2 separate regions of the Homo sapiens genome follow, and region 1 is linked to region 2. The links come from fine-mapping of genetic effects on gene expression. A gene starts in region 2. The other region holds a variant in brackets. All regions are shown on one strand. Distances are from middle to middle.

Region 1 (5,376 bases), 460 kb before region 2:
GGAGTACAGTGGCACGATCTCTGCTCACTGCAACCTCCCCAACTGGGGTTCAAGCAATTCTTGTGCTTCAGCCTCCCAAGTAGCTGGGATTATAGGCACACATTACCACGCCTGGTTAATTTTTTTGTATTTTTATTAGAGATGGGGTTTCGCCATGTTGGCCAGGGTGGTCTCGAATTCCCTGCCTCAAGTGCCTGAGATCTGCCTGCCTCAGCCTCCCAAAATGCTAGGATTTCAGGCGTGAGCCACCATGCCTGACCCCTCCCTTTTTCCCTTTTACAAAAACTATGTATCATTTGTTTAACTAAAAACGAAGGAGAGAGAAGAATGGGGAAAAAAATGAGTCCTTCAATATAACTTCAGTTGAATAAGGAGCCTGTGTGAGTGAACACAGTGAAAGAAATACAAATGGAAATGGGCATTTTAGGGACAGAAGAGACCAGATGGTAGCTTATGTAACCAGTTACCATCTCCAGAAATCTGCTTACTGTTTCTGGGTTGACATACTTCAGATCTTGGTGTTTCCCTGACACGGTTGGCAGCGCACATACCTAGAAATACACAAGAGCTGAAATAACAGCAAGTATTCCACACCCAAGTTTGAGATCAAAGACCCTTATTTTGTCCTTCTTTCCAAGTGACCCTTAAAACCCCAGAGGCCTTCAAAAAAATCAGTGTCTCTATAAAGTGCATATACATCAAGTCCATTTCTAAGAACTGATCCTAAAGAACAAATCAAGGATGTGTACGAAGTTTTAGATTTCTCTACAAATATATTCATCTTGGTATCATTCATAAGAAAAAATTGTAAAACCAAATATCTTACAAGAAGGGATTTATGAAGAAATTATGAGCAGCCAAAAAAAAAAAAAAAAGAAATAATATGGAGCTATTAAAATGAAATGGGCTGGGCATGGTGGCTCATGCCTGTAACCTCAGTGCTTTGGGAAGCCAAGGAGAGAGAGGATTTCTTGAGGCCAGGAGCTCGAGGCTGAAGTGAGCTATGATCATGCCAATGTACTCCAGCCTGGGCAACAGATCAAGACCTTGAATCTTAAAAAAAGAAAGAATGAAGCATAACTGCTTATTAATATGAAAAAAGATGCCCCTGATATAATTATTAAATGAGAGGAAAAACAACAGATAACAAAACAATATAAACTGTTTTTGTAGAAAAGCAAAAACTGTATTTGTATATGTGTTTGTGAAAACACAGAAAAAAATCTGTAAGAATATGTACCTTCTGCAATTACACAGACAGTAGGGGGGAAAAAAAGAGTATATACTAAGCAATATTACCCTGGTTAATAAAGTTTGGGATAAATTTCTTCATTTTCTACTTTTTCTGTAACAACCAAGTATTATTTACATAATTTTAAAATATGTTTTTAAACAGAAAAAAGGTAAAAAGTCTCATACTTTCCCCTGTTCTGGATCTTCCCAGAAGAATAAGAAATACTTTCTCTCTGGAAAGGCTTAGGGCCTGGATCTACCACTAGAGCACTGTCAGGTTACCAAAGAGTACTTGGTGAGGATGCATATTTACACCAGGCATTCTCGGCAAACAGAGAAGATTCAGATCCAAAATGACTCACTGAAATACAGGATGGGTGTAGCCAAACTCACCTTGGAAAAATCACCAATCAGGTGCCCCTGGTTAGAATCTTCCTCCAGCATCTGAGTGATAGTAATGTCACACAGAGAGACTGTCTTCTTTAAACATAAGCCCTGAAGATGACAAGATTCCCACCCCACACCCAATCCTCATGTTAAAGGTTTAAAAACCAGTGGATGGAGTGGGCCATGGTGGCGCACATCTGTAATCCTAGCTACATGGGAGGCTGAGGTAGGGAGATCACTTGAGCCCAGGAGGCCAAGGCTATAGTGAGCTACGATTGCACCACTGCACTCCAGTCTGGGAGACAGAGTGAGACTCCATTTGTTTATTTATTATTTTTAATAATAAATAAATATTGAGGCTGCAGTGAGTCAAGACCATGCCACTGCAATCCAGCCTGGGTGACAGAGTGAGACCCCATCTCAGGGGAAAATAAATAAATAAATAAATAAGTTGATTTTATAAAATATCCAAAGATTTTAGAATTTTAATTTTTTATTTTATTTTTTTTTATTAGAGATGGGGTCATGCTATATTGACCAGGCTGGTCTTGAACTTCTGACCTTAAGTGATCCTCCCATCTATTTAATTTTTTTAAAGTTGGGGAGGGTAAAGGACAAAGGCTAAGTTTTTCAGAAGTTGCTTTCCACAAAACCAACCTGCTATATGATGTTGTTTCTGTCAGACTGCATGTAAAACAGCAGTAAAATATCCATACCAAAGTTCCCTTGTATTCTTTCAGATCTTAAGAAAAAGGGTTGGGAAGACGGTATGATGACAACATTTCTCTTTTTTTTTTTTTTTTTGAGACGGAGTCTTGCTCTGTTGCCCAGGCTGGAGTGCAGTGGCACAATCTTGGCTCACTGCAACCTCCACCTCCCGGGTTCAAGCGATTCTCCTGCCTCAGCCTCCTGAGTAGCCGGGACTACAGGCACATGCTGCCA[C/T]GCCCAGCTGATTTCTTGTATTTTAGTAGAGACGGGGTTTCACCGTGTTGCCCAGTCTGGTCTTGAACTCCTGAGCTCAGGCAATCCGCCCGCCTCGGCCTCCCAAAGTGCTAGGATTATAGGCGTGAGCCACTGCACCCGGCCTATGACAACATTTCTAAAAGTACAATATAGATATACTTTATGTATCTATGTTATATAAATATTTTATATATATATATATATTTCACGTGGATACAGATGTAGAAAAGACAGAAAGATGGAAAGAACAAAGAGGAAAAAGTAAAAGTAAAGAGGAAGAAGACAAAAAAGGCATAATAAAACAATCCTCATACCAGAAAAGCAAAGACATGAGATAGAAGATGAACAAGATTTTCATCTTAAAAAGTTCTTACCTTCCTGAGCTTTCCTTGGCCAGAAAAATACTTTTTTTTAACTTTATCTGGTATTGTGTTGTCCTTGAATTTTTCCACCTGCTTCAGTCTTGGCCTGTTCAAGTTCTCTGGCATCGACGGGGAGCGATATAGGCCACTTCTGCTCACCTGTTTGGGAATATTAAACCCCCTAGTTCTTACTCCTCCAAGTGTGTCTGCAGACCTGCAGCAACAACATCTCCTGGGAGCTTCTTTGAAATGCAGGTTTCCAGATGTTAGGCCACACCCCAAACCTACTGAATTAAAATCTGCATTTTAACAAGATGCCCAGGTGATTTCTCAAGTTTGAGAAGCCTTGGGTAGGCAACCTGTCTTCATAGGCCCGTTAATATCTTTCTACCTGGACTGCATGATATTCCATCTCCATGGACGTCTTAACTAGCCAAACCAAATTCTGCAGCTGACTGTCTTAGATGCACCAGTTCTTCTAACAGAAAGCAAACACAAGCTCAGTCCCTCCAGTTATGTGACCAAAAAAAAAAAAAAAAAAAAAAACATAAGTCCATTTTGTCTCTGGGATCCTAGGACATTGACAATCAGGATTTAAGGACCTCAACAAACCTAAAGATGAAAAGCCAAGAAGAAAAATAGCAAAAGAAGCATCATGCAAGAAAAAAGGACACACTAAAATCAAATAGCATGCTGACCATTATAGGATGGATACTATGAAACCCATCAGGGAAAAAAAAGTGGCTCAAACGTCATGAAGAACTAGCCTTGAGAATTGCTTACACAGGAACAGATTAAAGTATAAGAGGATAGACTGTTGTTTATTTGAAAGGCATGGTTTGGGTGCTATATTCAGAGTTGAGGGTCTATCAAATGACCTCTGATAACACCTTCCAACTAATCCACAATTCTATCCTCTGTTGCCACATACTTTGAGATCTCTACCTCTCACCTAGAGAACAGGCAAAAGCTCCTTCTCTAAACACTTATCGCACTACCTGTTATGGACTGATTTAGGAGGGGGGCTATACAATAAGAGAGCCATAACTGGAAGGCAGCTTGATGATCAATGGTTTCTGGAAGAACGAAATAAGAATAACAACATTTTGCTTTATGACAGCTATGGATATTATGTTGTTTATCACACACATGGTCCTACCTCTTGTTCGTGATACCAGCTGATGGTACCGTCCACATTATACGTACCCTTAGACTCCTTCCAAACATCGCCCTATGTCCCCATCCACCCTACCCCCCAGACACTGATGACTGGACCATATTGCTGGTTGAACACATCTATTTAGTGGTCTAGAATAAGCAAAAATAATCTAGGCCAATCAGGTTCCCTCTCTTGGTTGCCTAACTTGGAAGATGGAGAAATAATTAGGCAGTAGCAGAAGCCAAAGCCCAAAAGGAAGAAGCCAAGAGATACAGTCAAGGCCACGAAGCCAGTGATGCATGAATGGATCAACCAAAGGTAGGGTAGGAAAGGAGATATGGTGAGGCACTGAGGAGTAGGGTGCCTGGTCTCCATGACAGACAGGACTTCATATAACTTCAATTTTCCCCTGAGAAGGCAGGGGAAAGCTAGATGAGGATTTCAAAAGGGGCTTCTCTAGAACACACCATAATAATTATGCTAAGAGCCATATTACTAAGAGTTTGGAATTAATTAGCTAATTGAAACTTATCTTTTTTTTTTTTTTTTTGAGATAGGGTCTCGCTGTCACTCTGGTTGGAGTGCAGTGGCACAATCTTAGCTCACTGCAACCTCTGCCTCTCAGGCTCAAGCGATCCTCCCAACTCAGCCTCCTGAGTAACTGGGACTACAGATGCGCATCACCATGCCCAGCCAATTTCTGTATTTTTTATAGAGAGAGGGTTTTACCATGTTGTCCAGGCTGGTCTCGAACTCCCGGGCTTAAGTGATCCATCCGCCTTGGCCTACCAAAGTGCTGGGTTTACAGGCATGAGCCACCACGCCCAGTCTGTATCCATTTTTAAGCATTGTATCTAATAAATTTTTGCCAACTCAAGGTCACAAAAATTGTCTCCGTTTTCTTTGGATTTTTTTTTTTTTTTTTTTGAGACAGAGTCTCACTCTGTCGCCCAGGCTGGGGTGCAATGGCATGATCTCGGCTCATTGCAACCTCCGCCTCCCAGGTTCAAGTGATTCTCCTTGCCTCAGCCTCTGGAGTAGCTGGCATTACAGGTGCTGACTACCATGCTTGGCTAATTTTTTTTTTTTTTTTGAGATGGAGTCTAGCTCTGTCACCCAGGCTAGAGTGCAGTGGCACGATCTCGGCTCATTGCAACCTCTACCTCCCAGGTTTCAGCAATTCTCCTGCCTCGGCCTCCCGAGTAGCTGGGATTACAGGTGCCTGCCACCATGCCCAGCTAACTTTTGTATTTTTAGTAGAGACGGGGTTTC
Region 2 (5,376 bases):
CACACACAGACACACACACACAAAAAAAAAAAAAAAAGAAAAGAAAAAAGAAAAAACGTTTAATTGGCTCATGGTTCTGCAGGCTGTATAAGCAAGGCCTGGGCATCTGCTCTACTTTCTGGAGAGGCCTCAGGGAACTTTTACTCATGGTGGAAGGTGAAGCTGGAGCAGGCACATTACATGCTGAAAGCAGGAGCAGGAGGGGGCTGAGGTGCCACATCTTTTTGTTTTTGAGACAGGGTCTCACTCCGTTGCCCAGGCTGGAGTGTAGTGGCACAATCATGGCTCACTGCAGCCTCAATCTCCCCAGGCTCAGGTGATCTTCCCACCTGAGCCCCCCAGGTAGCTGGGACTACAGGCACACACCACCATGCCTGGCTTTTTTTTTTTTTTTGAGACAGACTTTTGCTTTTGTTGCCAAGGTTGGAGTGTAATGGCGTGATCTCGGCTCCACCTCTGCCTCCCAGGTTCAAATGATTCTCCTGCCTCAGCGTCCCGAGTAGCTGGGATTACAGGCACATGCCACCATGCCCTGCTAATTTTGTACTTTTAGTAGAGATGGGGTTTCACCATGTTGCCCCAGGCTGGTCTTGAACTCCTGACCTCAGATGATCTGCCCGCTTTGGCCTCCTGAAGTGCTGGGACTATAGGCGTGAGCCACGGTGCCCAGCCTGCTTGGCTAATTTTTTTGTATTTTTTTGTAGAGATGGGTTTTTACCATGTTGCCCAGGCTGGTCTCGAACTCCTGGGCTCAAGCTATCCGCCCACCTTGGCTTCTCAAAAGTGTTGGGATTACAGGTGTGAGCCACTGTGCCTGGCCGGTGCTACACTTTAAAACGACTACATTTCATGAGAATTCCCTTAGTACCTGGAGGACAGCACCAAGCCATGAGGGATCCTCCTCTATTACCCAAATGCCTCCCACCAGCCCCACCTCCAACACTGGGGATTACATTTCAATGTGAGATTTGGGCAGGGACAAATATCCAAAATATATGAATTATGTTCTGAGTTAGCCAGGTGAAGTAGAGGGACGCCAAAGCCACTCTAGGCAGAGGAGACTACAGGAGCAAAGACCCTGCAGCCAGAAACAGGACAGGGGTAGTTGGACAAGAATGACCTTGTCAGGGTTTGCCTTTTTCTTTTTCTTTTTGAGACAGAGTCTCACTGTGTTGCCCAGGCTGGAGTGCAGTGGTGCAGTCATGGTTCACTGCAGCCTTGAACTCCCAGGCTCAAGCGATCCTCCCACCTCAGCCTCCCAAGTAGCTGGGACTACAGGTAGGTGCCACTACACCCAGCTATGTTTTTGTATTTTTTTGTAGACAAGGGTTCTATCATTTTGCCCAGGCTGGTCTCCTGAGCTCATGTGATCCACCCATCTTGGCCTCCCAAAGTGCTGGGATTACTTGTGTGAGCCACTGTGCCCATCCTCTTTTTCTTAAAGGTTGTTCTCTCCCCACTTCATGGTCCTATTGCCCTTTGTCAGCATCTGTTAACTAGCACAGGCCCACAGTACTTTGAATTACAGTGGGCACATTCACCCACAGATGTTCACTAGGCACTCCCTAGGGGATGGGCAATGTGCTGGGTGCTGCAGGAGATACAGCTCCTGCTTTCCAGAAGTTTATATTCCCTTGGGGGAGAGGGAGATGTGAGGAGTAGAGGGTAAACACGGTAAGGGCAGGTCTCCCTAGCACCCTGCTCTCTATTCAGCACAAGGCCAGCAGTGGACATCGTCGTCTTGCATTATTCAGGTTTATAGGCCAATACTGAAATCTATCTTATTCATCATCCCGTGAGCAGGGGAAACATCATTAGGGTTTTCTATACCAGGATGATAGTGAGCATGTAGTAGTTTTTGTTTTTTTGTGTTGTTTGTTTGCTTTGTAATTTTGTTTTCTTTTGTTTTTGGAGTATTCACTATGAAGATAAGAAAGGGTAAGAATAAAATGCCCCAAATGACCAGAGGAATAGAGATAGAAGTCAGGTCCCTCAAATTTGTTGGAGGAGGGGGACAAGCTGGGAGGGGGGACGTGCTGGGGGCGGGGCGGGAACAAGCCCAAAAAGGGACAGCTGCTGCGGTGCCTCTTTTGTGTTTGTAAATGTCCTCCCCGCAAGGTGGCTCTAGCCTGTAATCCCAGCACTTTGGGAGGCTGAGGAGGATTTCTTGAGCCCATGAGTTTGAGACCAGCCTGGCAACATAGTGAGACTCTGTGTCTGTAGTTCCAGCTACTCCGGAGGCTGAGGTGGGAGGGTCGGTTGTCCAGGGATTTGAGGCTGCAGTGGGCCGTGATCGCGACACTCCACCCCAGCCTGGGCGACAGAGGGAGACCCCGTCTTAAAAAAAAAAAAAAGTCCTTGATCAAGAGGGCTTCGGGTGTTTCCATCTGTGGAGTGAGGGGACGGGTTAGGTGAATTCTAGGGGCGCTTCCACCTCACATTATGAAAGGTCCTGAGAGTCAGATTCTAGTTCCACTGTGTCCCGAAGCTGTGGGGCCTTTCCTTAGCCTCCGCTTCTCCTTCTGTAAAGCCAGGTAGTTGGCCTAGATCACTTTTCCAGAAGACTGTGACTCCGGGACACCTGTGACACTCTTGAGGGGAGCGTGCCCAGTACCCCTGGTCGCGTCTCTGGGATTCCGCCGGGGTGGGGGCCCGCGCGAGGCCGCCCCTGAGCCTCACCTGTGCGCGGAGCGGTGACTCACCTGCCCTCGCGCAGCCCTCTCCGCCCGCGGGCTGTTCCAGGAGTCACCGCTCCTCCTCCCTCTCAGGGGTCACTCCCGGCCTAAGCTCCCACTAGGGGCCGGGGAGGAAGGAATTCTGAGGTGGGCGGCGGGGAGGAAGAGGTCCCTCGGGGGTCCCGGTCCGGCGTTGCCAGACTCTCTTCGCGGTGGGGGCCTTCCCTTTCCCCAAAAGCGGAGGCCGGAACGGCCGGGAGGAGCGGGCGGGGCGGCGGCGGGAGGCGCCGGGAAGAGCGAGTCGGAGGGAGGTGCCAGGAAGGGCGGGCGGGGCCGGGACAGGGGCGGGGGCCGCGGGCGGGGGGCGGGCCGGGGGCGGGGGCGTGGGGCGGCCCATTTCCTCCTCCTAGCCGGACTGGAGGGAGACAAAGCAGCGCCCGTCTGCTTCGGGCCTCTGGAATTTAGCGCTCGCCCAGCTAGCCGCAGGTAACTTCGTACCTCCCTCCTCGCGGGCGCGGTCTCTCGGGCCAGGCCGAGAGGGTCCTTGGGCCGGGCCGTCCCAAGCTGGGCCCCGCGAGCCGCGGGCGGGCGAGCGGGCGGGGCGCGGTTTCTTTGGCGACGTCGCCGGGAATTGGGCCCCGGGCGGGCGTGGGACCCGCGTCGGGCCGGCGGTCCCTTCCCCCGCAGGGCCCGAGTATGGGGCCCGGGCGGGCACGGCCGGCGCTTCCCAGCGCTCGGGAAGTCGGGGGGCCGCCTGGGCTGGGGAGGAGAAACTATAGGCCCAGCGCCGCCGCCGCGTTTCCTCTTGGAAAAGTTTTCTCGCGGTTTCCAAACTTTGTTACCGCGGCCTCGGCGCGCGCGGCAGCCCCGCGCCGGGCCCCTCGGCCGCCTTCCTTCCCTGGGGCGGCTTGTCTGGGAGCCGCTTTCCCGGGAAGTGATTGTCGTCCGGCTCCGAGGCGTTCCTGCCCCCTCCCCCTTCCCGGCCGCTGAGACTTCCCGATGGGGCGGCGGGGACGCGGGCTCGGCGAACCGGGAGGCTGGAGCCCGGGCTTCTCCCATACAGCTTCGCCGTAGGTGGGCCACACCCGTGTGGACTTTTGGCGTGACCGTCCACTTGGACTCGGGGATTACTCAGCTTTCCTGGGTTTCTTGTCGGTTGGACGCACTTAGCTTTCAGCCCTAGTTTTCAGGAGTGGCATTAGAGAGGTTTTTTTTTTTTTTTAATTGTTGTTGACTTTTAAAGGAGCGTGTGTGTGCGTGCGAGTGTGAAGCACTTGTTGGAAAAAATGTTGCCTGAATGAATGCCTGACCTTTGCTTGGCAGCAGTGGCTTCCCAGTAATGCAGGCGGCGGTTGGCCCAGTTCCAAGGTTGACTCCCTCTTACGTCCTCTTGCATCTTGGTGACATTTTTTTGGTGCGTGTGTTTTGTACAGAATTTACAATTATTTGGAAAAGAGCGAGATATGTCAAGTCTACGACTAAATTCGGGGCATTTTATATTTATGATGAAGGAAATGCTTACATCATTGTTGGGACAGGATAGGCATTTTGTGGAGCGAATATTTGTGTTTAGTCAGCAGTGATTTTTAAATACTGGACAGGTGGGTGTTACTTTAAGGAACGGAATTTATAAATCGAATTAATTAGGATGTGTTATTTTGTTTTACAGGAAGAATGAAGAATGAGTGTAGGAGTTACCTATAGTTTCTGCCTAATTATTTACCAATCTGGACTTTTGAACAAACATTTTTTTTAAAGACGGGGTCTCCGTCGCCCGGGCTGGAGCGCAGTGACACGATCATGACTCACTGCGGCTTCTGTCTCCTGGGCTCAAGTGATCCCCCCACCTCGGCTTCCGAAGTAGTTGGGACTACAGGCACGCGCCACCACATCCGTCTAATTTTTGTATTTTTGGTAGAGATGGTGTCTCGCTGTCTTGCCCAAGCTGGTCTCGAACTCCTGGGCTCAAGTGGTCCTCCTGCCTCAGCCTCCCAAAGTGTTGTGATTACAGGCCTGAGCCAGGGTGCCTGACCCCATCTGGATATTTATTCAGCGAAAGAATAATTTTTTAATCCACCTAAGAGCTCACAGTGTAATAGGGGAGACACACACCCCAGGTGTAGTACAGAGCGGACTGCAGTAAGTGCCTTAACAGTACTAATGAAACTATTGTCTGAGTCAAATCTTACCTAATAGTAACAACAAAAGAAACTTGTAGAGGCACGGAGAGGGGGCTAATAAGTTTTACTTGGGTAAGTCCAGAAAGGCTTTCAGGAGGTGGTGGCATTTGATCTGGATGAAACATGAGTCGAGTTTTTTTTAAGTGAAGGGAGAAAGTCATGAGAAGCATAAAAGGGCATAGGAGTTTGGGGAATTGTGATATCACTCTCCTGGTTTTCTTTTCCTTTTGACTCATCTCAGTTTCTTTCTTTTCCTCGCCCTCACTCTTTCCTCTCGTACCCAGGGTTCTTTCCAAAGTATCTTTGTCCTCCACACCACTGATGTGGCATCACCTTCACTCCCATCAGTGATATCTCATTTCATATAGTGACTTAGAGATGAGAGGTACCCTCCTCCAAGATGAGAATCACTGCTCTGTGCAGTCTCTTCTGTCATCAGCCTTATGTGCTAAAAGTCCAAGCCTTTGAGTGCAGGTGTGTCTCCTGACCCACATGGTCACCTGTGCATTGGGAAGCTTTTT

The links.
Region 1: its variant is fine-mapped to the expression of CTNNA1 in whole blood (INTERVAL, PIP 0.97).

The regions. Positions count from the first base shown.
Region 1 is chr5:138,289,013-138,294,388 of GRCh38, forward strand. It overlaps CDC25C (cell division cycle 25C), which reads right to left. Exons shown (of 14, transcript NM_001790.5): 8 at 2,958-3,104; 9 at 1,627-1,728; 10 at 489-551. Among named protein-coding and RNA genes, the nearest start is that of GFRA3, 17 kb to the left of the region's middle. The variant C/T (reference allele first, on the strand shown) is at 2,563.
Region 2 is chr5:138,750,350-138,755,725 of GRCh38, forward strand. CTNNA1 (catenin alpha 1) reads left to right here and starts at 3,076. Exons shown (of 18, transcript NM_001903.5): 1 at 3,076-3,161. It overlaps CTNNA1-AS1 (CTNNA1 antisense RNA 1), which reads right to left and starts at 3,575. Exons shown (of 2, transcript NR_134244.1): 1 at 3,174-3,575. RefSeq lists a silencer at 2,966-3,405 and enhancers at 3,109-3,676, 3,677-4,243.